7 linked regions of the Homo sapiens genome follow. The protein of the gene in region 2 purifies or fractionates together with the protein of the main gene of each other region. This does not show direct contact. Each region holds a gene or a part of one and is shown on either strand. Other genes may lie near its edges.

Region 1 (3,500 bases), on a different chromosome or scaffold from region 2:
TAGCCCTGCACTTTTAAGGGTAGAATGTTGGTCCTAGTGAGGTGAGCTGACTTACCAGGGTGCAAGTGATCTCAGTAGTAAAAATTGACTCATAGCTGAACTTTTAACATTAAAAACACTTAAGGAAATTATGATACAGCACTTGGTGGGCTACTGTATGATTGCTTATGAAAATTATGAAACAACAGGGAAGTCATTCATTCACTTATTTAGTGAGCACCTCCTATATATGAGATACTATTGTATGTGCCAGGAATTCAGTGGAGGGAGAACAAAACAGACAAGGTCTTAGCTCTGGTGGAGCTGACTTTCAACTGAAGAGAAAGAATGAGAAAGGATAAGTAGAACATGCTACAACTATGTAAAAGACCAGGGGGAAAATGTGAGGTTGGGATTATGGGAGTTCTTATTTCTTTTCTCTTTTTTCTAGACTTTTTTTCTGACGTATGATACTTTTGTAATTAACAATCCACACATTCAACGTGACATACTTTTGTAATTAACATTTTTTTCTAATGGAAGGCAAAATGCAAGTTTTAGGATCTTAATAATTTTCATTATTATAGTATATATAGAGTAATACTACTTTAAGAGTTTTATGATTTCTGATGTGTATGGTATATCTTATTAAAACTAGGAAATAGAAATAATAGCACCCTATAGTAAAATGTAACATGGTGGTTGCATTGTTAGAAAACAGTGTCTTATGTGAAATAATCCAGTATGGTTTCCTTTATTTGAAAATCCTCACCCAAGAAATCTGTCATTGTTTTTGTATCTCATTCATGTTTATATATTCTGTTTGAAAGCCCTGGGTTCTTGTAAGATTGGTTGGTTCCATTTTAGGTGAAATAACACTGAAAAGTCTTCTTGTGTCAGAAATGTATATAAATACACCTAATCTAAAGTTCTATTGAAAGAAAAGGGATTTTTAAATATAGAAATTCTAGTATATGTTAGCATTTGTTTCTTTAAATAGTTTGAATAAGTTTTATGGGATAATTATAATTCTCAGCTACTTTGTCATGTATTTTGTTTTAATGACTCCCAATTCTATCACCAACTAACTTAGTCTTCCTAAATTAAAGCTCTATTGGCATTGTAATTCTCCATGTTTTTCAGTGCATATGCAAACATAGGTCCAAATATTTTTGTCTTTTTTAACCCGATGTAATCATACCATATCAGCACATTTTGAAGGCCTGAAACAGGCTAGCCTAATGAGTGGCTCTGTATTCCCATTTCCTCATGTGGACTAATGCGGTGTGTGGTGTTTTTCTTTTCCTTTTCAGAAGCAGTGGACAGGGGAGAATCCGCTCCAACGTTGTCCACCTCCCCTTCACCCTCCTCCCCTTCACCCACTTCCCCTTCACCTACTCTGGGCAGACGAAGGCCTGAAATAGGAACGTTTCTTAGAAAGAAGAAAACTAGTGACATCTACTTTGTGTCTCTAGTTTGGGCCATTGTCGTCATGCAGATCTGGTTGAACCTGTGGATTGTGCAGTTGCTGCCAGTGCCGATTGCAGGTCGTTATCTGGTTAAGTACGATCTCGTCTTGTCTTTGAAGATTGATTTTTTTCTTTTTTTACTTTTGGATTTTAATATTTGAGATACATTTACCGTCTTGCAAAGTAAAACAATCTTATGTTTGCATTTAAATAGTAAACAAACACCATTTGGTTAATTTATTACTTTGATACATCTTTAATATTTCACTTTTTTTTTTTTTTTGAGACGGAGTCTTGCCCAGGCTGGAAGTGCAGTGGCACCATCTCAGCTCACTGCAAGCTCCACCTCCCAGGTTCATGCCATTCTCCTGCCTCAGCCTCCCGAGTAGCTGGGACTATAGGTGCCCACCACCACACCCGGCTAATTTTTTTTTTATTTTTAGTAGAGACAGCGTTTCACCATGTTAGCCAGGATAGTCTCGATCTCCTGACCTCGTGATCTGCCCATCTCGGCCTCCCAAAGTGCTGGGATTATAGGTGTGAGCCACCGCGCCCGGCCAGTATTTCACTTTTAAGCTCAAAAAATGTGTTTAGCTTCTTACAATTTCATGTAGTATTTGAGATTAATAGCTCCATAGAGAGATTTGATTGTTTAGCCATCCATGATTCTGTGAAGGAGAATGTTAACAATATCTGTGTTTTGGAATTTGAAGATCGAATGATTTTTTGTTTTTTTTTTGAGACGGAGTCTCGCTCTGTCACCCAGGCTGGATTGCAGTGGCGCGATCTCAGCTCACTGCAGCCTTTGCCCCCTGGGTTCAAGCAATTCTCCCACCTCAGCCTCCTGAGTTGCTGGGACTACAGGCATGCGCCACCACCCCTGGCTAATTTTTTGTATTTTTAGTAGAGACGGAGTTTCACCATGTTGGCCAGGCTGGTCTCGAATCCTTACCTTAAGTCATCCGCTCACCTCCGCCTCCCAAAGTGCTGGCATTACAGGAGTGAGCCACTGCGCCTAGCTGAGATTGAATGATTTTTGAGCGCTACTCTTAGGGAAGCACGTTTTACCTTGCCTTTTTAATTCAAAGGAAATGTAGGCTTTGAGAAATACATGTATGCAAAGTCTTGTGATTTGGCAGAAAAATTAAATTACATGTATATCTATATTATATGTATTACATCAAAATGGAATCATAGTTTTCCATAATCCATTAAATCAGGTCTTTGTATCTTAATGCTGTGGTAATTTAAGGCCCACCTCTATTGTTTTGATTCTCTCTAAAACTGTCTTTCTCCTAAGACTAGAAAGAGCAAGGGAGAGTTTTCTCTGACAGGTGCATTGTAGAAACATCTTTTACCTAATATTTTCCTGATTATTTGGGCTCTCTTCTTATGGCAGCCATATTTTGTGCCAAATTTATTAAGTCCTTAGTGGCTGCTGTGGATTTTGCCTTCTGAGTACCTTCTACATTTGATTACTCCTCATTTCCTATGTCAAGGTTTTTCACTATTGATTAAAACGTAATCTGATTTTTGGAAGCTGCTCTCCACTGTAGTCTAAAAGTCTAAACTTATTAGCCCATTTACCTTCTAGACCATTAGTTTTCATCACTTCTTTTTATTTTTCCTCACTCAATTGGATAGTTAATTAAATAGGCATTATTTTTTAACATTTATTATGACCAGAGCATGGTATAGTAGTGCCTGTCCTCAGGGAGCATGCAATATAAATGGTTGAAGTTTGTATCTGTATTTTTTTTTTTTTTGAGACAAGGTCTCACTTTGTCACCCATTCACCACAGCCTCGATCTCTCAGGCTCAAGTGATCCTCCTGCCTCAGCCCCTCAGATAGCTGAGACTACAGGTGCGTCCACTGGCTATTGTTTTGTATTTTTTGTAGTTTGCCATGTTGCCCAGGCTGGTCTCAAACTCCTGGACTCAAGCAAACCTCACACCTTGGCTTCCCAAAGTGCTGGGACTATACAGGTGTGAGTCACCGTCCCCGGCCTATATGTGGTTCTTCTGTCCTCAAACAGAACTTCTGTTAGGCAG
Region 2 (3,500 bases):
ACTGGGTTCTTATGAGTAGAGGAAGTGACACCAGGACTATGCATGTAGGGCAAAGCCATCAGCAAGCCAAGAAGAGAGGCCTCAGGAGACAGCAGCCTTGCCGACACCTTGATCTTGGACTTCCTAGCTTCCAGAACTGTGAGAAATCTCTGTTGTATAAGCCCCCCAGTCTATGGTATTTTGTTACGGCAGCCTGGGCTAACTCATACACCATGGATTTACTATCTTAATTTTGTATTTTCCTCTCCAGTCTTTTGTCTGTGCATTTGTTCACATTTATGTTTACAGTTACACACATAATGTTCATTCCATTTTGATCTCTGACTCTCAAACTGAGCCCTGCTACGTACAGATTGGGAGGAGATGGGGGTATTGGCCATAGTGCTGCCAGGTATCCATGGGATGCTGTGCAGACCTGTCCCAGAGGTGCAGCCTCACCTTACCAACCTCACCATGCTGGCAGAGAAAAGCCAGATGGATGTGGAAAGAAGCACTGTTGAATTCATTCAAGATGAAGTGATGTTTGTCTCTGTCACTTGGCTGCTGACTTGCAAGGGAAAGATACTGGTGGATACTTGTTTTTTCATCATGTTGTTCAACCAAGTGCCCAGCACAGTGCCTGGCAGTCACATTTATTAAGTGATTGAGTGGCCCATTCTCTTCCTGAATGCCAGGTTTGCTTGGGGAATTAAATTGTAAACAGAAGATGGCGTAGTGAGCATGAAATTAGCAAGGTTGGCATTATCAAGCTGTTACAAGTGATAAGAGAGCTCTACTCTGTTGTCTAACAATTTGCCAATTAAAAAAGAATAATCACATCTGGAAGTAATTTAGCATGTTATGCATTTTATGGTTTCAGCTATTTAAAAAAATATTTTAAAAAGTTATAATACTATTCACTTAATGTGGTCCCATTCTGTAATTTTGAACAATTGCTTGCACCCTATAAACAATTGGGTCTGTTGGGCTCCTTAGAGTGTTCTACTTTGTAAGTTCATTTTTATACCTTCTATCATTGTGTTTTGATTAATTTTGCTTTGTAGTATATTCTAGATCTGATTGGGTCGTATTGATTTTCTGTACTGAGTTTCTGTTTCATAATATATTTCCTTGCCTATGTATTTTTACAAAGTAATTATGCTATTTAAAAAATCTTGTTGAACATTTATATTAAACAAAATATCAAAACTGTTTGTTTTCAGCTAGGTTAAAATAAAATGAGTAACCTTGACTCCTTGCAGAGCAATAGAGATAATGGTACTTGGAAAAGTAGTAGAACATGAGGAATAAGCTTTATAGGAAACCAAGAAGATAGCAAGAGAATAGCACCTATATAAAAATTAAGACAGATCTCTGCATTCCCAGTAAGCAGAGCAATTCAGGCTTATTACAGATTTGTCTTTTCCTTAATTTTGAGTGAAAAGGACAATCAGAATAAAGGACACAGTAGATAGTAATCACTTAGTGCTATAGCGATAACACAATCTTATCAGTTTGGTTTTTTTTTTCTGAGATGGAGTTTCACTCTTGTTGCCCAGGCTGGAGTGCAATGGCACAAAGTCAGCTCACTGCAACCTCTGCCTCCCAGGTTTAAGCGATTCTCCTGCCTCACCCTCCCGAGAGTAGCTGAGATTACAGGTGCCTGCCACCACACCCAACTAATTTTTTGTGTTTTTAGTAGAGACAGGGTTTCACTGTATTGGCCAGGCTGGTCTCGATCTCCCAACCTCAGGCGATCCAGGCCTTGGCCTCCCAAAGTGCTGGGATTACAGGCATGAGCCACTACGCCCATCCAATCCGTTTTTTAAATACACCTTAAGTCAGTCTTAAGAACAAAGAATTGCCTAGTGTTTAACTGTGCAGACTCCAAAGCCACATTGCCTGGGTTAGAGTCAGATCTGCTACTTATTTGCTGAACCCCAGTTTACCCAAAATGGGTTAATAATTATGCCTACCTCATACGGTTGCTGGGAGAATAAATGGATATACATAAAGGACTTCAGTAGTACCTGGCCAACAAATATTAGTTACATTAAGGAGATTTTGTGTTACGGAGGCACTTTTTAATTTTGGAGAGGTCAGCTTTCCTGTATTTGTTTGTTTTCCTAAATCTGAAAGTCTGCCCTGTACAGGTTTGCATGGACACCCGTGGCCCAGTATGGCTGAACTCCCTATCTGACCTGCACCATTCTCAGGGAAATGCTTCTGAGCTTTTGCTCCTGACTTCTTTATCGTACTCTGGCAGCCATCCCCTGGCCTCCTAGCAAAAAATAGCTGGATTTTGTTAAAATTCAGTCTCTCTTGATACCATCTCTGCTGGATATGAGAGGGGATGGCTACCAGTGGAGCCTTAGCAACCTGATTAAGACTAGATCTGGGCTGGAATGTTCTCAGTGCTCTAAAATTACTGTTGATAAAGTTTCTCTCCATGTCTACCCACTTCCTTGTGCCCTGTTGCTCTCCATCCCATCTTACCAGCATGGGAGCTCAGCCAAGCCTCCTGTGGCTTTCTCCAGTCGATCACTGAGATGATTCTTTCTTCATTTTTCAGGTGCAAGTTCTCTCCTGTTGCCCTGAGTGCCCACTCCCAGGCCCTCTGTATGAGTGACACTTCAGTCTGCCATGGAACCTGGCCCTGCTCTGGCCTGGCTCCTGCTCCTGAGCCTGCTGGCGGATTGTCTGAAAGCTGCTCAGTCCCGAGACTTCACAGTGAAAGACATTATCTACCTCCATCCTTCAAGTAAGACTGTTCTCTTTGCTGCAGAAATATCACTTTATTTCAAATAAGAAGTGGTTCAAAAACTGGCCAGGAAAAGGCATCCTTCAGTATAGTGAAAACCTCCCGTGATTTAACTGGGGTGGTGCGGTAATTTACAAAAGATGTTTTATGCTTTACCCTCACCTTTTCACAAGAAGATTTTTGGTGGTGTTAAGGCAAATTATTGGGCTTGTTTTCTCTGTTCCCTACACAATCACTCTGATTCTGAACACTCTTCCCCTTGTACTCATGCCAGTCCTAAGTCAGCTTTTAAAGTGAACCACCATATCCCAGAAGGAGGATTGTTTGTAAAAGATCAATCCTTTATACGTAAGATAATAGCTGGTCTTCCTCTCTGTGCATCTAATTCTCAATTTCAGTGTAATTTCCTCCCACAACTTCCAATGTCCTGTGCCTCCTTTTGGTTTCCTATATTTAAGAATTATCTAGGGAATGCTTAATAACATAGATGCCCAGATCCCTGCCCTAGAGTTTCTGATTTGCATGTATCTCAGGCTGTACCTGTGCATTTTTGCATTCAGCAAGAACTTCAAGTACTTCTGCTGCAGACATTCTAAGGATCACGCTTTAGGAAACACAGCAGTTTGACTTCCTCTTTTGGTCTCTATCTTTGTATTTATTGTCTCTTTGTATGAATCCTCTTCTGTATTGCCCCTGTTGAGGTGAGAGCTGGTTGTATTGTGTATATTCTGACCTTCGGCTTTTGCCCCAAGGTGCATTA
Region 3 (3,500 bases), on a different chromosome or scaffold from region 2:
AGCGTCCAAGGCCTGCAGCAGCCTGTCTTCCCCAGCCACCAGCCCCTGACACTGCCTGGGGATGTTCCCACAGGATCCATAAAGGCCTCTGTGGAAGGCGGGCAGTGGCGGGCTCTGGGTGACGGTGGTTCAGCCACCTTTGTCTGTCGACTTCTAGCTGGGCAGCTCCTTCTCTGTGGTCAGGGTAGCCCTGTGGCTGACGCTGCAGTCATTGGGCTGAAGCTGTTCCCTGAGTCCCCAAAGTTGCCCTGCATCTGCGCCTCTGGCTAGGCTGCCCCAAACTACCTGGGGTAGTGGGGGGCAGCTGTGGTGGTGACACAGCTACCCCTGCAGAAAACCTGTGGAGCGCCTACCTGGAGAAGGGTGACATCGTGGAGAAGCATGGGCTGCCCTCCGCAGATGCCCCGAGCCTGAAGGAGAGCCTGCCTCTGTACGTGGTCGCTGACATCGCCACATCCTTCACCGTGCTGGTCGGCATCTTCTTCCCTTCTGTAACAGGTGAGCCCTGCCTGCCTACCCACCCAGCCCTGTCCCCAATCCCGGGGAGCCCCTGAGGGAGTCTCATCTGTTTTTGGAGGCATCATGGCTGGCTCAAACCGCTCTGGGGACCTTCGTGACGCCCAGAAGTCTATCCCTGTGGGGACCATTCTGGCCATCATTACAACTTCCCTCGTGTGTATCCTTTCCCAGGCCTGGGGCAGGTGGGGCAGAGGACGGGAAGCGCTTGGCCTGTGTACGTTGCCAGGTCACATGCACAGACACCCCACACACTCATATATAGCTCCCCTTCTCATGCACACATGCACATACACACCACGAGACTCCCAGCTGTAGGTGTCCTGGTAGTCTGGCTGGGGTGGGGGCACGTGGTACTATTCAGGGACAGTGGGGTGGCAGAGGCCGAGTTTTCCTTGACGCCGCCGCAGACTTCAGCAGTGTGGTTCTCTTTGGTGCCTGCATTGAGGGTGTGGTTCTCCGGGACAAGTGAGTGAGCTGGGCCCCCCTCTTTAGCAGCGGCTGGGCTTTGGCCTGCCCTCACACCAGCTCCCAACCCCGTGGGTGGTCCTAAGCCTGCTGGCTGCCTTTGGTGGTCTGTGCCATCCTTCCGGACCCCTGACATCCCTCACTCTGGTGGCCCCTGCAGGTATGGCGATGGTGTCAGCAGGAACTTGGTGGTGGGCACACTGGCCTGGCCTTCACCCTGGGTCATCGTCATCGGCTCCTTCTTTTCAACGTGTGGCGCTGGCCTCCAGAGCCTCACAGGGGCACCACGCCTATTGCAGGCCATTGCCAAGGACAACATCATCCCCTTCCTCCGGGTGAGCCCCTCTGCACTCCCCCATGGCCTGGCTGCTCCCAGGCCCTCGCCCGGCTGGGGAGAGAGATAGGGAACACAGATGCAGCACGTCCTGCCCTTATTGGCCCCCGGGGCCAGGCGGCCATCCATGAGGAGCTACTGAGAAGTGCCCTGGGCCTGGCACTCACCTGGGCCTGGAGCTGCCTGGACCCAGAATCTTCATGGCCTGTTTAGGGCTCATCCAAAGGAGAGAGGCCTGGTGAGGTGGAATCAGGGAGACTGGTGACACCCATAGGGATAGACACAGGGGCGGCCTGAGCCCCCAAGGCGGGCCCTGGGGGTGAGGGAGGCCAGGCTGGGGTCTGGGGCCCAAGGTGTGGAATGGGGGTGACAGGACCCAGCTTCCTTCCTGGTGCACACAGGTGTTTGGCCACGGGAAGGTGAATGGTGAACCCACATGGGCACTCCTCCTGACGGCACTCATCGCCGAGCTGGGCATCCTCATCGCCTCCCTCGACATGGTGGCCCCCATCTTATCCATGTGAGCTGGGGCCGGGCAGGGCAGGGGGATGGGGAAAGGCTTCCTGAACCCCAGCACCTCCCCGTGGCTGCGTCTGGTGTTGGAGGTCCAGCTGGGAGATGTGGCAGGCTGCATGGGGAGATGTGGCCTGACAGGGCTCAGCCCACCCCTGCATTTAGGAGCAAGCCTGGCACCTATGCCAAAGCTATAAGGTGACCAATATGTCCACACCTCCCTGAGGCCCCCAGAGCAGGTGGCCGGCAGACCTTCCCACTGGACAGGGCAACCACCGCGTCCCTCATGCCTCCATGAAGCCACTGCTGCCCCTTCCATCTGTTAGTTTGTTTTTTGGTTTTTGTTTTTTTTTTTTGAGACAGAGTCTCACTCTCTCACCCAGGCTGGAGTGCAATGGCATGATCTTGGCTCACTGCAATCTCCGCCTCCTGGGTTCAAGCAATTCTCCTGCCTCAGCCTCCTGAGTAGCTGGGATTACAGAAATGCACCACCACGCCCAGCTAATTTTTTGTATTTTTAGTAGAGATGGCGTTTTACCATCTTGGCCAGGCTGGTGTCGAACTCCTGACGTCAGATGATCCACCTGGCTCGGCCTCCCAAAGTGCTGGGATTACAGGCGTGAGCCACCATGCCCAACCCATCCATTTTCAAAGTCATTTGCTTTTAACATTCTGGAATCAGCCAGGCAAATCTGCGTGCCAGTGCCTTGCAGGGAGTGGCCAGCATGTGGTGACTCCCAGGGACCCCGAGGCAGCGCTTGTTTGGTTGACTCTGTCCAGGCTGGGGTCCTCGCCCACCCTGCTCCGTGGCTGACGCTCCTTCTTGCTTGTGCGGTTATGAAAGGCCTCCTCTTCCCTGCCCACTCAGCCTGCAGACTTGACAGGGGCCCTGTACCCCTGAGCAGGCTCCATCCCAGCTACAGCCAGGCCTGCTGGAGCCAGCACCCTCTTGTCCACCCCCCCACACCCCTTCCTCTCACCCAAGAGCACACCTGAAACTGTTTTGCCACAGCCATCTTGGGTGGTGACCCCCCTTGTGCCCAAATCAGAGGCTACATCTCAGCCTTTATCTCGGGCCTCCTGCTGGGAGCCCCTGCCCCCTGGCATGCCCTGTGTGGGTCCTCCTGCCTTCCTGCGCACCCGTCCTCGGGTGCCTTCCTGGAGGGCTCATGCAGCTGGCCCTGCCCATGCGTGGGACTCCCACGCCCACCGCAGTGACTCTTAAGTATCTCTGACTGGTTGCATTCAAATGGTCCAGCTTATCTTCCATCCTCCCCTTCATGCATGGCAGCCTCTCATCCAGCTGGTCACTCAGGCCAGAGGCCTGAATGTGGCCTAGAGTCTCCAGGCACTGAGCTCTTCCTGCTGCCCCTGCACCACCCTCTTCAGCTCTGCCCTGTTACTCCCCTTCCTACCTCCTCCAACAGCAAACCCTTGCCCATCCTCTGCGATCTGGCTCCGAGGACTCCTCCACAGTAGTCTCATTGCCTCAGGCCATGGAGGTGGCAGCAATGAGGTTGAGAAGACCTTGCTGAGCCATGCAGGGCAGGGCCGGGCCACGCCCCGTTTCTGGGCCAGGCCCAGCCTGACATCAGGTCCCCAGCTGCCGAGGAGGCTGCTCTTCGCCAACCGCCCTCTGTGCCGCAGGTTCTTTCTGATGTGCTACCTG
Region 4 (3,500 bases), on a different chromosome or scaffold from region 2:
AGAAAAAGGAGTTTCTTCCTTAGGTGGCTGTGGTCACACCTGACGCTGCTGCACCCAGGGACCTCGAGGCCTGAAGTCCAGAGCCAGACCAGTGAGTTCACACCCCAGCTCTGTCACGTTCTAGCTGGCTCATGTGGGCCATTCAGAAAGCTGCTCTGTGCCTCAGTTTCCCCATATGTAACCTGGGGGTCATTATGGCGCCCACCTCAGAGGGCTGCCTTGAGGTTGAGTGGGTGTGGAAATCTTTACAGCTGTGCCCACTCAGAGAACGCTGCCTCACGACATTCCCACGTCCATGTTCACTGTGCTCCCTGGAAAGCCCCTGCCCATCCTTTAGACCCCGAGACACCCTCCCTAACCCAGCCCCTGAGGGACTGGCCTTGCTCTGTGGTCTATGGTCTTCCCCGACAGGCCCCGGCTGCCCCGCCGCCCTGCCCCAACAAGTCCAAACACTGGATCTGGTCACTGGGCACCTGCCGGTCCAAACTCAGTGAGCCGGGAAGGGGTGGTGACATGCAGGGGCGCGAGCCCAGAAGACCTGTCCCCGCAGGTCACCCCCAGGCCAACAGAGCAGAAGGGTCTCCTCCCCCAACCAGAACTCCGATGTAGGCCAAGGGCAGCACAGGGATGCTGGGCCTCCCCTCTACAACCTAGACAGCCTGGGAGGCAGCAGGAGCTGCTTGCTGGCTGGGCACCTGTGGCCCTCTCCTGAGGTCCCTTTTGTTTTTTTTTTCTGACCAGCAGCCCCCAGGCCCCTTGCACGGGCTGAGTCTGGCCCCCGCCCCTCCCACTGGGTAAAGGTAAACAAGAGGCATGTAAGGGGGAAGGACAGAGCCCTACTCCAGATGAGGCCAAGAGTGGGGGCTGCCAGGCCCCCAAACTCCTGCCAGCCTTGGTTCTGAGACCGCCCCAAGTCTTGGCTGCACTGCGGGGTGGTTCCAGTGGGGACTAAAATTGGGAGTTCTCTGCCTTTCAGTATTTTCAAGCAAACAGACTGGGCCATTCTTTTCTTTTTTCTGAGACAGGTCTCACTCTGTCACCCAGGCTGGAGTGTAGGGGCATGATCTTGGCTCACTGCAACCCCTGCCTCCCAGGTTGAAGCAATTATCCTGCCTCAGCCTCTCCAGTAGCTGGGACTACAGGTGCACGCCACTATGCCCAGCTAATTTTCTGTATTTCAGTAGAGATGGGGCTTCACCGTGTTGCCCAGACCGGTTTCGAACTCCTGAGCTCAGGCAATCCACCCGCCTTGGCCTCCCAAAGTGCTGGAATTACAGGCGTGAGCCACCACACCCAGCCAGACTGACCATTCTTAATGCTAAAATCAAACCAGCACAAAGCAGTCAGGCCCAGTGGGAGGGCAGGCCCAGCTTGGGGGCTGCTCTTGGCCAGGCCAGGCTGTGGGCTCTGGCACGGGAACCAGAGAGGGCAGGGGCCAGAGGAGGTGCATGGGCAGCGGCCCGGCAGGGGCCAAGATGGGGATCCAGGCAGCAGCCGCCATGAAGAACGAGGAGAGCTCGGGCCTAGGCCTGGGAGGGCAGGAGGGGGTGGCATGAGCACCTAGGACATGGGCGGTGGAGAAGGCAGAGGTCCTAGGGCTGTGCGGCCCTCCAGGGCTCAAAGGATTGGGGTGGACACAGGCCCTGCGTGGGGTGGGGGGGGGGCCCGGTGCGGGGGCGGGGGAAGCAGCCTCGGACCAAGTGAGCGATAGGCTGCCCCAAGCACAGGCCAAGGCGCGTCTGAGAGTGGCTGTCCCGGAACGGGGCGACAGGCGTCACAGAAAAGCCACGGAGGCCCCGGAGGCCCCGCAGCCAGCAGCCAGGGGGCCGGGCCAAAGCTAGCGACACACGCAAATCTGCAATTATCCCAGAGCGCTAAACACATCAGAGGAAACAAAACAGACGCGCCGGCGAATCCCAGCCTCCGCTGTTTTCAAAACAAGCGCGAGGGGGGTGCCGCGGGGCGTGGGGCTGGGGGGTCGGCAAGGACCCCGGCCGCCCCTTCCCGCAGCGCCGCGCCCGTGGGTAGGCGCGGGGAGGGACTGGGTGGAGAGCGCGCGGGAGACCCGGCGAGGGCGAGACCGGCGGCCCCGCCACCCAGCCCCACCCACCGGTGACCCGGGTCAGAGTTCAGCCCGGGAGGCGGGGGGCGGTGTCTCCTGGGTGGGTCTGCGAGCCCGGTACCCGGCCAGAGCCAAAGGCGGGCACCCGGCCTGTGTGGAGCGCCCTGGACTATTCCTCGCAGGCCGACCCAGGTGGCACAGCCCCTCCCCCGGCGCCGGCACCGCCAGACTCCCCGGAGGGCGCAGAACGGTTGCCCGGGAGCCAGGGGCAAAGCGCGCCCGGGGCCAGGAAGCGCAGGGACTAGGCCCGCGCCTCCTCGGCGCCGCCCACTGCCCCCCGCGAGCCCAAGCTCCACGGCCACCGCCCGCGCCCTCCCGGGGACTCCGGCGCCCCGTCCGCCCCTCGGCCTCGCGCACCTGGAGGGAGCACGTGGCCGCCTCTGGGACAAACCTCACCAGGCCGGGGGCCCAGGACGCGCGGGCGGGTGGGAGTCTGACCCGAGTAACAATGACGGCGGCGGCGACAGTCACACGAGCGCAGGAGACGTCGTCCCCGCGGGGCGCTCACCTGGCGTCGGGCACATCGGATCGCACAGCCGGCCATTACCTAAGTCCTCCGAGCCGTGGAAGGGGCGCGGGGAGCAGCTCCGCCCCGCCGATGGTGGCTCCGCCCGTGCCCCCGGTCGGTCTCAGGGCTCGGCCCCTCCCGGCCCAGCTGCCAATCATGCACGACCCTGCCCGGAGCAGCCTCCCGCAGGACTCCGGACCCAGGGTCAAGGCCAGACTCACCCGAGGCAAAGGCCGAACGCTCCCGGCACAACCCGACCTAGGAGCTGGGGCGGGGCGGGGCGGGGCGGGGCTCCAGGGACAGACTGATGTGGAGGCCTGAGCCTCGCTTCAGCGTCTACAGCGGTCCCCGCTGGACTCTCGGCTGAGGACCCCTCCCAGGTGGAGGCCGTCGCACCCCTTCCCCGCCAGCCTGGTTTCAGGGTGGGGTTCCTACTTAGGGCCAGCCTCCCCTGCAGTCTGGGCTCTGGGTCCCAGCAGGAAAAGTCACCCTGGCTGGTGGCAGTGATGGGGTCACCAGCCCAGGATCCTGGGGGTGCCCCATGAAGCCCCAGCTCCTCCTGTCACTTGCTCCAGCCGAGTTAGTCACAGCCCCCACTGGTCCACACCTCCTGACACACCCAGGCCACCTGGTACCCAGGGCCTCTGTATCTAGCCCTGGCCCTCAGGCACCCCCTGAGCTCACCTGGCCATGCCCAAGGGGCCTGCCCCAGCCCCCTCTCCGCCTCTGCACCAAGTGCAGCCCCTGTATATGGTGCGTCCCTAGACTGGGGCCCCAGGCTGCCCTCCCATCCTACACACAGTTGTGAGGCCCTCCTCAGCCTCCTCTCTGGCCACGGCCCACTGGCGCATCTGGAGGATGGTCCTCCCC
Region 5 (3,115 bases), about 120 Mb from region 2:
CAGCCGAGGACCCTGAACCTGCTGCAACAGGCCCTGGTGGGAGGGGAGCAGGAGACAGTTGTCAGAAGCGAGGGGCTGGTCTTTGCCTCTGAGGGCAGACCTCAAGCCAGGCCTTCCCGAAAGAGCGTCAAGCCTTCACATTATCCTGGAGGCAGCGGGGGGCTCCAGACAGGTGGGGCAGGAATGTGATACAGGCCCAACCCAGGTGTGCTGAGACAGAGATGTAAGATAGCGTGTGGGCTGGAGAGGACCGGGTGCCAGCACCTTGCAGGCCATGTCACAGGTGACGACATCCTGGTTGTTACTGCTACCCTTCCTCAGCAGCTCCTGGTTGGTAAGCTTGAGGGACTGAATGGTTTCTTGCAAAGACTTCTGTACCTATGGACAAGAAAGGTCTGGCCTGTGAGGGAATCCAGAGCTTCCATCCTGCTTCATTTTCCATGCCAACAGGGTCCCTTCTCAGGGAAGGGACAGTGGCTGAGGAGCCCCCACTCAGAACCTAGAATCCAGACAGGGCTCAACCTGCCACGTCCTCCCAGCTCCTCACCTTCTTGGGAATCTGCTCCCAGGAGCTGAGCAAGTGCTCCAGCAGAAGGCTGTGGGGAAAGCACAACCCCCTAGTCAGGTGGCTCGCGCAGCCTCACCCATCCTCCTGTCCTCCATTAGCCCTGGCTCCTTCAGGCTGAAAGACCCTCCACCTACCACCCACAGAGCAGCAGCTTCCTAGAGGCTGCTCCAGCAATGTTCCCACTCAGCCTGAAAGGTGTCAGGCCATGGGACAGTGACCCAGGCTCCCCTTCTGCTTCTAGCACAGGGACAGGCTGGCCTCCCACCCCACCTGCCTGGACTGTGACAGGTGCTTAGGGTACAGCTGCCTCCAGACGCTGGCACTGAGGGGGTCCACCGTCAGGCACTCAGTCAGGCTGCTCAGGAGCTGCACAGCACGACAGAGGGAGAGGCTGCTGGGGGCATGGGGCTGGCAGAGGCGGGGAGTGCTAAGAGGTGATCCCCTTCCCGTAAGCAAGGCCATCCAGGCCGCACATCCACCCTAAGGGGTGGAGAAACAGTGTCAAGACTCCAGAAAGCTCTCTGAGAGGCTGTAAAGCAGGAGGCTGGGGCTCCTGAGCTAGAGCTTTGAGCTCAAAGATCACTATCTGCAAGAGACGGGCATCAGAAACCACCCAGACCTGAATGTGCTGTCTCTTGGGATCCATCTTCTGAGGGTGAAGCTCGAGTGAGCGGGGCAGGCAGCTGTCAACAGGGAGCTAAGGAAAAGCCTCAGAATGGGCTCTGTGAAGGCAAGGCCTTTGTCAGCAGATAGGGACCGCTACAGCTGACCCCTGGGGAAGGAGAAAAAGCCTCCCACCATATCCTCACCTCTTTCTTCATCTCAGGGGGACAGCTAGGGGTGGCTCTGGACAGGAAAGAAGGGAAGTAGGTATGCAGGGTGGAATCCGGCTTTGCTCCAAATGCCAGCACTTTCAGTCGGGGGTAGAGCTGACACAGCTGCTCCTGCAGGCTGGGTGGGGTGGGGAGGAAAGACAGGCATAAGCTATAAGTGGAGCTGTATGATATGAACCTTTTGCTTGCTTCAGAGCCCATGCCTGCCTGTGGGGAATAGCCACTGAGGACCTTGCAATGGCTCTGAATCTTTTTACTCAGAGACTCCTTGGAAATCTGTTGAAAGCCATGGACCCTATCCCTAAGAAAATGCCCATATGCCAATCACACTCAAGGGTCCATATAATTTCAAGGGGTCACTGTTCCCTTGAAACCTACTCTTGAACTTCCAGGTTGCAAATCTCAGATCTAGGATGGCTGGGGAAGGAGAGACGGGAATATGTAGTGTGGTTCTGGTGCTGTGGTCCCTTCTCAGCAGGTGTGCCCCAGAGCAGTCCTACCTGGGTGTCAGGGAGTTGTTCGGCATATAGGCAAAGTCCAGAAGTGGGAAGAAGTCCTTGGGGCCAATCATGCCGAAGCCCTTGGTAAGGTTGGGATGCATCCTGTGGGGATGAAGAAACAGGCTCGCTGGACACCACCACCCATGCCAGCTGTTTTGGCCATGACCCCAGCTAAGCCAACATCTAGGAAAAAGGGTATAAACTCTACCCCATCTGCCAGCCCTTAATAGCTCCCTCTTCTTCCTTCCTCACCATCACATTCTAAGGTGGTGGGAGAAGCTGGTCCTGATTTTCCTCATATCCATGGAGACCAAGATCATAGCCTCCCATTTTGCTATAACAGCCACTTGGGACACCCTGAGCCTTCCCCTTGCTGCCCTCCCATTACTCACAGGAGCAGCCGATCCAGGTATGTGATGGCAAAGGGAGACAGAGACTTGATGCCCAGCACAGGCAGCATGATCCCCAGCCACACTGCAGGGGTAAAAGTCACGAGGGAGGCCTCAGGCTTGCACCTACTGGGGGCATCAAAGAGGAGTTTTCCAGCTCCGAGACCCTCCCTCTTTCTTCCCTATTTCCCTGTTACCTTTCAGTCCCTCGGTGAGGTTGGCAAAACCTGCTTGACCCAGGGCCCACATGATGGTGAGACACTTTGCTGGTCGGCTCTGGTGGGACCTCAGCAGTTCCAGGAACTGAGGAGACCGGTGGGGAAGGCAGATTGGGATAGGACAAAACACCAGGAGCACCCCCCAAAGCCAGGAGGGAAGGGAGATGTCAACTGGAAGAGGGAGGACAGGCCGAGCAAGAGTGGAGCACTATGGCCACGTGGTGCAGGTTCTGTTTGTGGGCTTCGCCCATACTCTGCCATTTACTGGATGACTGAGCCTAGGAAAGTTACTGAACTCCTCTGTGGCTCAATCTTTTCATCTATAAAAATGGGAAATAATAGCAGTACCTTGCTCCTATGTTTCCAGAGCACACACACAGGATAGGTGCTAATAGTGTTACCCATTATTACTAGGCTTACAGGTCTTCCACTATCCCAAACCTGAGTCCAACAACATAGATTCTGCCCAGCCTCCCCAGTCCTAGCTTCCTAGCATCCCCACCATCACTGAGAGCTCACCTTGCCTAGGTTTGCCGTGGCAATCTTGGGCTTGTCTTGCAGGATGGCCTGGATACAGATGCGGTAACCATGTAGTGACTCCCCTGGA
Region 6 (3,500 bases), on a different chromosome or scaffold from region 2:
TTTTTTTGGACACCAATGAATGAATTCGGATGTGAATATGTTTACTTCATTTAGCGGTTGCTGTAAAAGCTGATTTTTGGGTGACAGGTTTGAGATTGTTATGAATAAAATGAGTCATGAATGAACCACTTGTTTGTGATTTTCTTGCTGAAGTGATGAACTTGCATATTAATGTGATATAGCATGAGTAACCAGATTGTTCTTTTGGTGGTGCAGGATGAGATATATGCTGGCAATGAGAGGCAGCTTAAGATCTAATGAATAGAATTTGAGACCTATAATCTGAACATAGGGGTTTACTAGCTGGCTTGGGTCTGCCTACTGGTCTGATTTGTATACAGAAGAATTGAATTTATTCAACTATTTTCATTATACGTATACATATATTTATAGTGCAGTGGTGATGATAATAATGGTTAACATTTATAGAGTGCCTGTTATGTGTAGGTACTATTCTGGGTGCTTTTATATGAATAATCTCATTTAGTCCTCATACAACCCCAAAGAGGTAGGTACTCTTATGATTTCCATTTTACAGAAGAGGAAATCAAGATTTAGAGAGTTTGAGTAACTCACTCAAGGATAATTTAATTTAATATAAAAACAGTGGAGCTAAGATTCAACTAGAGGTGTTGATGACCATAACCCATGCTCTAGAACCTCTGTGCCATATTGCATCCTCCATGTTGAGGTTTACCATTTCCTCTGATAAATACTTTTAACTTCTGTCTTGCTCCCTATATAAATGTTACCTATATTAATAAGAAGCTGGCCAGGCACAGTACTCATGCTTATAACCCCAGTATTTGGGGAGGCCAAGGCGGGAGGATTGCTTGAGCCCAGGAGTTTGAGACCAGTCTGGGCAACGTAGTGAGATCTTGTCTCTACAGAAAAACCAAAAAATAATTAGCCAGGTATGGTGGAGCATGCCTGTAGTGCCAACTACTTGGGAGGCTGAGGTAGGAGGATCACTTGAGTCCAGGAGGTCAAAGCTGTAAGTGAGCCATGATTGTGCCACTGCACTCCGGCATGGCTGATAGAGCAAGACTCTGTCTCAAATAATAATAATAAACAAGAAGCTACTATGTTAATGATTTTATTAATATTTATTTACATATGTTTACCTTGCCTCATTTCACAGAAGATTTGAGGTGACCCCTTAGGCAGAAGCAACATTTATTAAAAGATAAGTATTTTTCTTTGCTATATTAGACATTCTTGAAGAGAGTTTTAAAATGTAATTGGATTGTTTATTTAAGTATGTTTTTAGAGTGCATATAACTCATTTATAGAGGTGTTAAGTGAAAACTGTACTAGTTGCTAATACGCAGATGTTTTAAAATGACACGCTTGTTAGAAATATTAGTTTTTCAATGCTAATTATATAGGCAGAAGAGTCCACATTATTTTATTCTAGTCTGAGTGGTAAATAGACTCTCAATTCTGCACAAATAGAAAAAGTTTTTTGATTAATGGGGACGAAATAAAATATTTTTAAAAAGTGATTATGCTGATATTTTTCAAGAAATTGCTTCTAAGTATTATAGTTATTAGATAAATGGTGCTTACAATTAAAATGTCATAATTATTGAGAACCATACTTCATAGTTCCCAAGGTCTATAAATAAAGTGTCAAAACATGAACTTTTCTTCATGCAACAATGAATTGGTAGAACTTGAAATCACAAAAATATTTTTGCTGAATTAACATTATATAATATACTTTTAGGTTATCACAAATTCACAGTTGGTGGTACTTAATTACTACCATCAAATGAATTCCTTTTTTATTAGTAATGTCTGAGAGCAATATAACTAAGATAACTAGACTGGATAGGATATCTCTGTTTTGGAATTTACTTATGATTAACAGTTATCCAAAAATGCACTTGATTTAACTTCTTTAAGAATGAAGTTGGGCAGTCACCCAGAACCTTGGAGGAATGGAAACTTAATGTTTAGCTGGATTAGAGGGTAGGCTATTGGGTTCTCTATCAATGGAGTATACATTTAGAGTGTTAGGTATTCTTCTTAGGTAGTACCTTTTGCTATGGCTAGTAAGTTAAATTATGAAGTTTTATTTATTATTGTCATTTATTTTAGAGGGACTTCAAGTATCTAGAAAGAAATAGATTATTTTTTTCCTCTGCTACCAGAGCCAAGTCAAGAGAGTCCCAAGCTCATATGCTATATAGAATGATCCAATTTAATTTTCTGCATGGCCAAAGTTTTGCAATTTATCCTAGTCCAAGTTTGCATTGCAGTTTCTCACACTCTCTGCATTGATTTAAAAATTCTTATGGATTATGTCATACTAAATACATTTTATAAAGTAGACGGAAAAAAGGGGCCAACATTTGCTTAGCCATTATGGGGTAGCAGACATGGATTCTGCTAGATACTTTTCATACCTTCTATTCCTTACCTGTTTCCATATCCCCATGTCAATAGGGGAGAAAATTCAGGGTTGGAGAGACAAGTCATTCACCCAGGATCGTATAGCTAGCAAGCAGCCAAGCTGGGATTCAGTATGACTCCTCCTGGAACTCTTGAGAAATATGGACACATAAAACCAATGAACATGTATTTATTGAGTTCTAAGTTTACTGGGTAAGAATATACAAGAAAATATGAATACATAGAAGCTTATGTATGTATAAAAAGAGAACTGACAGGATAAAGTATGAGACAACTTTCAAATGCACATGTAAAATGAAGGTAGTCAGATATAATGCAAACTAATCAGGATAAAAAATTATAGTATGTCAATTTATTTTTACAAAAATCCCTGAAAAACTACAGTTCTGAAATTGAACTGAATATAAGTGGAAAGTAGACAATATATGCATTTCCAGTGTCATCTGGCAGCCCATATCATTTTAGCTCAAGCCTGCATGTACTGAAGTATCTATGTCAAAGCAGGAAGGTGGTGATCTGTGTCTCAGTTTCTGAGTTGACAACAAGGCATTGAATTTAGACTGTGACTTTATCACAAAGAGATACTGTATATTGGAGAGGGCCCTAGAGAAGAGCAGCAAGGAAAAAAAAAGAGATTGGAGAGATTAAAAATATAACTGGATGCAGTGAAGGTTAATTGAGAGTGGGATGGATCAGATCAAGTATTTTATAAGGACTTCCAAGGCACTAATACTTAAGGGAGGTGAATTCTATTTTCCTTTTAAAGAATAAGTCATTTAGTTAAAGGAGTAGAATAAGTCAAAGACACAAATGTCAGGGAAAATGTCCTAAAGGCAAACCTGAAAATGGAATGAATTGTTTAGAATGGGAGGAGGGTAAAGGAGTTGACACTAAATGATTTGCATTTCATGAATTAAAAATCATTTCCAACAAATTAGAGGGTTCATTAATACCATATTAATTACTCTCTCTCTCTCTCTCTGTGTGTGTGTGTGTGTGTGTGTGTGTGTGTGTGTGATCATAGGTAGCTTAGCTTTTCTTCCTTTAATAGTAGCAAGACTGGCATTTGATGACATTATTAT
Region 7 (3,500 bases), on a different chromosome or scaffold from region 2:
CTATTCTAATAATTTTTATATAATTCTTTTAATATGTGTATTACACATAAGGCTTAAAAGTACTTTCCTGAGATTTATCTACTTACTGTATTTCATAGTTTCATTACTTGGAAGAATAACAGTAATTACATTTTAAGGCTTATGATTTAAAAAAATGTAACCTCATTGTTAAATTGGGGGCTAAAATGTCATGAGTAGGTAAATAGTATAATTTGCTATTAATACTTGTACATTGCTAATGCTTTTGAATGTTAGAATTGACTGTAAAGTGAAGTGAAAAAATAGCAAAATAAATATTAAATTATTTCTCAGTGCTGGATAATATTTAATTCTGATTCTCTTTAGTTGTAAAGATGGTGAATTTAGGCGCTATCAGGGTCCAAGGACTAAGAAGGACTTCATAAACTTTATAAGTGATAAAGAGTGGAAGAGTATTGAGCCCGTTTCATCATGGTTTGGTCCAGGTTCTGTTCTGTAAGTATGAGGGCTTTTTCTCTTACCCATTTCATAATTAATTGGAACAGATAATTATATTTTATGTAAAGCATTCATACTCAGTTTGTTTCTTGAGCTGTTAAGGTATATCCACATTTATTACATGTTTGATTTTTTTTTTTTTTTTTTTTTTGAGATGGAGTCTTGCTCTGTCGCCCAGGCTGGAGTGCAGTGGCGCAATCTCGGCTCACTGCAAGCTCTGCCTCCTGGGTTCACGCCATTCTCCTGCCTCAGCCTCCCGAGTAGCTGGGACTACAGGTGCCCACCGCCACACGTGGCTAATTTTTTTGTATTTTTAGTAGAGACGGGGTTTCACTGTGTTAGCCAGGATGGTCTTGATCTCCTGACCTCGTGATTTGCCCACCTCGGCCTCCCAGAGTGCTGGGATTACAGGTGTGAGCCACTATGCACGGCCTACATGTTTGATCTTTTTAGTTTGACCTTCTAAGTCAAACATATTTTCATGCTTCTTGAGTTAGAGAAGGCATTTTATAGAAGTAAGTTGTACACCTTTTCAGGAATATTTTAGCTTGCTAGATTTGGTCATATGTATCATCAAAAACTAAATGCCCCTAAGAGTCTTCACAGTGTAATGGGTAAAGCTATCACTCGAGTGTAATAATTTGAATGAGTAGGCTCAAACTTGTACTCATGCTACCTCCAGACTTCAATTTGTCTTTTAATGTTCTGTCTCCATAGAGACCGTCAATAATTGCCGATACCAACTAAATTAATTACATAAACTTCAACTCTTGATGTCAAGCGACTGAATTATGTTTGGTTGGTTATTCCACCTGTCTGATAACTTCTTATATGAATAGTGTGTATAAACGGTGACCGTAATAGTGTGCCTAAGCACTGAGCTTTATAGATATCTAGAGGGTAGATGAATTTCCTCGTAGCAACTGGCTATGGAGTGATAAGGATTGGAAGTAGCAAGCATGCTTTCTGCTTTGCTGTTGGAGTACAAGGCCTCACTGGTCATGTGAGAGACCTCTGGGAACAGTGAGTTTTGCTGAGGTCACCATGGACTGATCCTGTGTGGCCATCTGTCTCTTCCTGTCCTCTCACCACACTTACCTTTGGAGGATAGGGAGTTGGGACAGTAATCACATAAGAGAAAAATGCTCTAGATTCTGGGGATGGGAGAAAGATTAGCCCTGTTAACACTCACCCATTGAACTACCATGCCCAACTCAATTTTGGATCCTACTGTTTCTGAAATAAATTACTGCAGACTACAGTGAGGCTATACAGTGCTTTATGTTTCAGTTCCTTGTTTCTCTTCTCACTTGGCTTTTAAACAACAGAAGCAACATGATTAAAATACCTTTCTGTGTCGAACTAAAAGTATAACTGATTTTTGTTCTCTGAAATCTCATCTCATAAATGAATCTTGTCCTTCCAGTAGAAGAAAGTAGTTGCTTGTAAGTCTATTTTCAAGCAGCTACAATTGGGAACTCACAGACCTTTCTTATTTCTGAAACATGCCTTTTTAAAACTGGCCATTTAATTATGTAAAATACTAATTTTTGCTTATATGATGACTTAGCATTTATTTCCTATGTAATAATTTTGTATATCATTAAAAGATGTCAAACTAATGCTCTTGTAAATTTTAATTAATTTCAATAAAAAAGAGGGATAGTTCTTAAATGGAAAGAATTGGCTTGACAATTGTTTCCAGTCCTTACTTTAGCCTCCCTTTGGTCTTGCTTTGAAGGCTTTTAAGGGTGAGTAAGAGTTGCCTTTTCCAACTGGTTTCATGGAACTTGTAACCCTTTACTCAGTGTATTGGAGAAATCATCAGATGAAATACAAAATATTAACATCAAAACAGTGGGAGAAAAGGAAAAAAATACTGTCAAGTATTTTTATTTATGAGGCTGTCACATGGTAGTGTCAATTTAGAAACAGTTTTCATGAAGAAGGCTTATTACAGGCATGAAATCAGTGATGTGTCACTAGTCTTGATTAACAGCAATAAAATCTGTCATATTGGGGAAATTATAGAGTAGAAAATAGTATGTATAGACAAATCTGTGTATGTTACTCAGTTTTTTAATCATCTCTTTTATTTTTAGGATGAGTAGTATGTCAGCACTCTTTCAGCTATCTATGTGGATCAGGGTATGGACTAAAATATTTTTATCTTAAACATTTTTACCACTATCACTTTAACAAAAATGAACAGATTTTTAGTTTTTTTTTTTCTTTTGATTTTAGACTTGCCATAACTACTTTATTGAAGACCTTGGATTGCCAGTGTGGGGATCATATACTGTTTTTGCTTTAGCAACTCTGTTTTCCGGACTGTTATTAGGACTCGTAAGTATTTCATTTTTGGAGTGCTAGGAAGAAAGATATTTAAAAATGTGATTATTTAAAATAGTTACATTAGCTGTGGCATATATTCTACATTCAGATTTCTTACAATGTTTATTTTTACAGTGTATGATATTTGTGGCAGATTGCCTTTGTCCTTCAAAAAGGCGCAGACCACAGCCGTACCCATACCCTTCAAGTAAGTATATTTTAAAATGTTTATTTTTTATTCACGATAGTCCTATTCATTTCTGTAATCACAATCACACATTTCACAGGTTGCTCTTCCAGCTTAGAATTCTAACTGTGGATTGTTGGTCTTTATCAGCTATGGCATAAAGGAAGGTAGAGGAGATGTATATTTCATATAAGAATGTAGCCCAGTGGATTTTGGAACATTGTTATTTTCTTGACTCTTATATTATGGGGAATTTTAACATTGCATATAGCATGTAGCTATTTAATAATATTTATTTGGTGTCGTTTTATAAGTGGAGTATATTCTACTCTTGAAGTCTTTCATTAGTATACCGGCCGCCACATTTGAAGATTATTCTTTGAATGCCAGCCAACTGTAAGTTTTTTCTGGTAGGATATTGGGAAAAGCAATCCCTATAGTTGATTTAGGATGCCACTGACACTGAACTGTACTACAGAACAATTTAAATAATTACAAGCAT

The links.
Region 1: the proteins of LYPD6 (region 2) and TMEM245 purify together in Homo sapiens (affinity purification with mass spectrometry; 3 studies listed by BioGRID and IntAct, with this or other methods). This does not show direct contact.
Region 3: the proteins of LYPD6 (region 2) and SLC12A4 purify together in Homo sapiens (affinity purification with mass spectrometry; 3 studies listed by BioGRID and IntAct, with this or other methods). This does not show direct contact.
Region 4: the proteins of LYPD6 (region 2) and PLXNB2 purify together in Homo sapiens (affinity purification with mass spectrometry; 3 studies listed by BioGRID and IntAct, with this or other methods). This does not show direct contact.
Region 5: the proteins of LYPD6 (region 2) and TMEM214 purify together in Homo sapiens (affinity purification with mass spectrometry; 3 studies listed by BioGRID and IntAct, with this or other methods). This does not show direct contact.
Region 6: the proteins of LYPD6 (region 2) and DNM3 purify together in Homo sapiens (affinity purification with mass spectrometry; 3 studies listed by BioGRID and IntAct, with this or other methods). This does not show direct contact.
Region 7: the proteins of LYPD6 (region 2) and TMX1 purify together in Homo sapiens (affinity purification with mass spectrometry; 3 studies listed by BioGRID and IntAct, with this or other methods). This does not show direct contact.

The regions. Positions count from the first base shown.
Region 1 is NC_000009.12:109,088,948-109,092,447, reverse strand, and holds part of TMEM245 (transmembrane protein 245), read left to right. Parts: intron 1-1,292; coding exon 1,293-1,526; intron 1,527-3,500.
Region 2 is NC_000002.12:149,435,087-149,438,586, forward strand, and holds part of LYPD6 (ly6/PLAUR domain-containing protein 6 precursor), read left to right. Parts: intron 1-2,551; 5' UTR 2,552-2,622; coding exon 2,623-2,740; intron 2,741-3,500.
Region 3 is NC_000016.10:67,948,138-67,951,637, reverse strand, and holds part of SLC12A4 (solute carrier family 12 member 4), read left to right. Parts: intron 1-333; coding exon 334-498; intron 499-577; coding exon 578-676; intron 677-926; coding exon 927-984; intron 985-1,144; coding exon 1,145-1,319; intron 1,320-1,719; coding exon 1,720-1,838; intron 1,839-3,478; coding exon 3,479-3,500. UniProt on the Homo sapiens protein: Mediates electroneutral potassium-chloride cotransport when activated by cell swelling. May contribute to cell volume homeostasis in single cells. May be involved in the regulation of basolateral Cl(-) exit in NaCl absorbing epithelia.
Region 4 is NC_000022.11:50,297,647-50,301,146, forward strand, and holds part of PLXNB2 (plexin-B2 isoform 3 precursor), read right to left. Parts: intron 2,866-3,500; exon of another isoform or gene 2,852-2,865; intron 2,690-2,851; exon of another isoform or gene 2,480-2,689; intron 1-2,479.
Region 5 is NC_000002.12:27,035,965-27,039,079, reverse strand, and holds part of TMEM214 (transmembrane protein 214), read right to left. Parts: intron 3,111-3,115; coding exon 3,028-3,110; intron 2,594-3,027; coding exon 2,488-2,593; intron 2,376-2,487; coding exon 2,294-2,375; intron 2,004-2,293; coding exon 1,902-2,003; intron 1,520-1,901; coding exon 1,378-1,519; intron 1,291-1,377; coding exon of another isoform or gene 1,279-1,290; exon of another isoform or gene 1,266-1,278; coding exon of another isoform or gene 1,188-1,265; intron 1,049-1,187; coding exon of another isoform or gene 935-1,048; coding exon 843-934; intron 597-842; coding exon 548-596; intron 379-547; coding exon 265-378; intron 34-264; coding exon 1-33. UniProt on the Homo sapiens protein: Critical mediator, in cooperation with CASP4, of endoplasmic reticulum-stress induced apoptosis. Required or the activation of CASP4 following endoplasmic reticulum stress.
Region 6 is NC_000001.11:171,844,498-171,847,997, forward strand, and holds part of DNM3 (dynamin-3), read left to right. Parts: intron 1-3,500. UniProt on the Homo sapiens protein: Microtubule-associated force-producing protein involved in producing microtubule bundles and able to bind and hydrolyze GTP. Most probably involved in vesicular trafficking processes, in particular endocytosis.
Region 7 is NC_000014.9:51,246,747-51,250,246, forward strand, and holds part of TMX1 (thioredoxin-related transmembrane protein 1 precursor), read left to right. Parts: intron 1-345; coding exon 346-474; intron 475-2,579; coding exon 2,580-2,625; intron 2,626-2,721; coding exon 2,722-2,823; intron 2,824-2,946; coding exon 2,947-3,019; intron 3,020-3,500. UniProt on the Homo sapiens protein: Thiredoxin domain-containing protein that participates in various redox reactions through the reversible oxidation of its active center dithiol to a disulfide and catalyze dithiol-disulfide exchange reactions.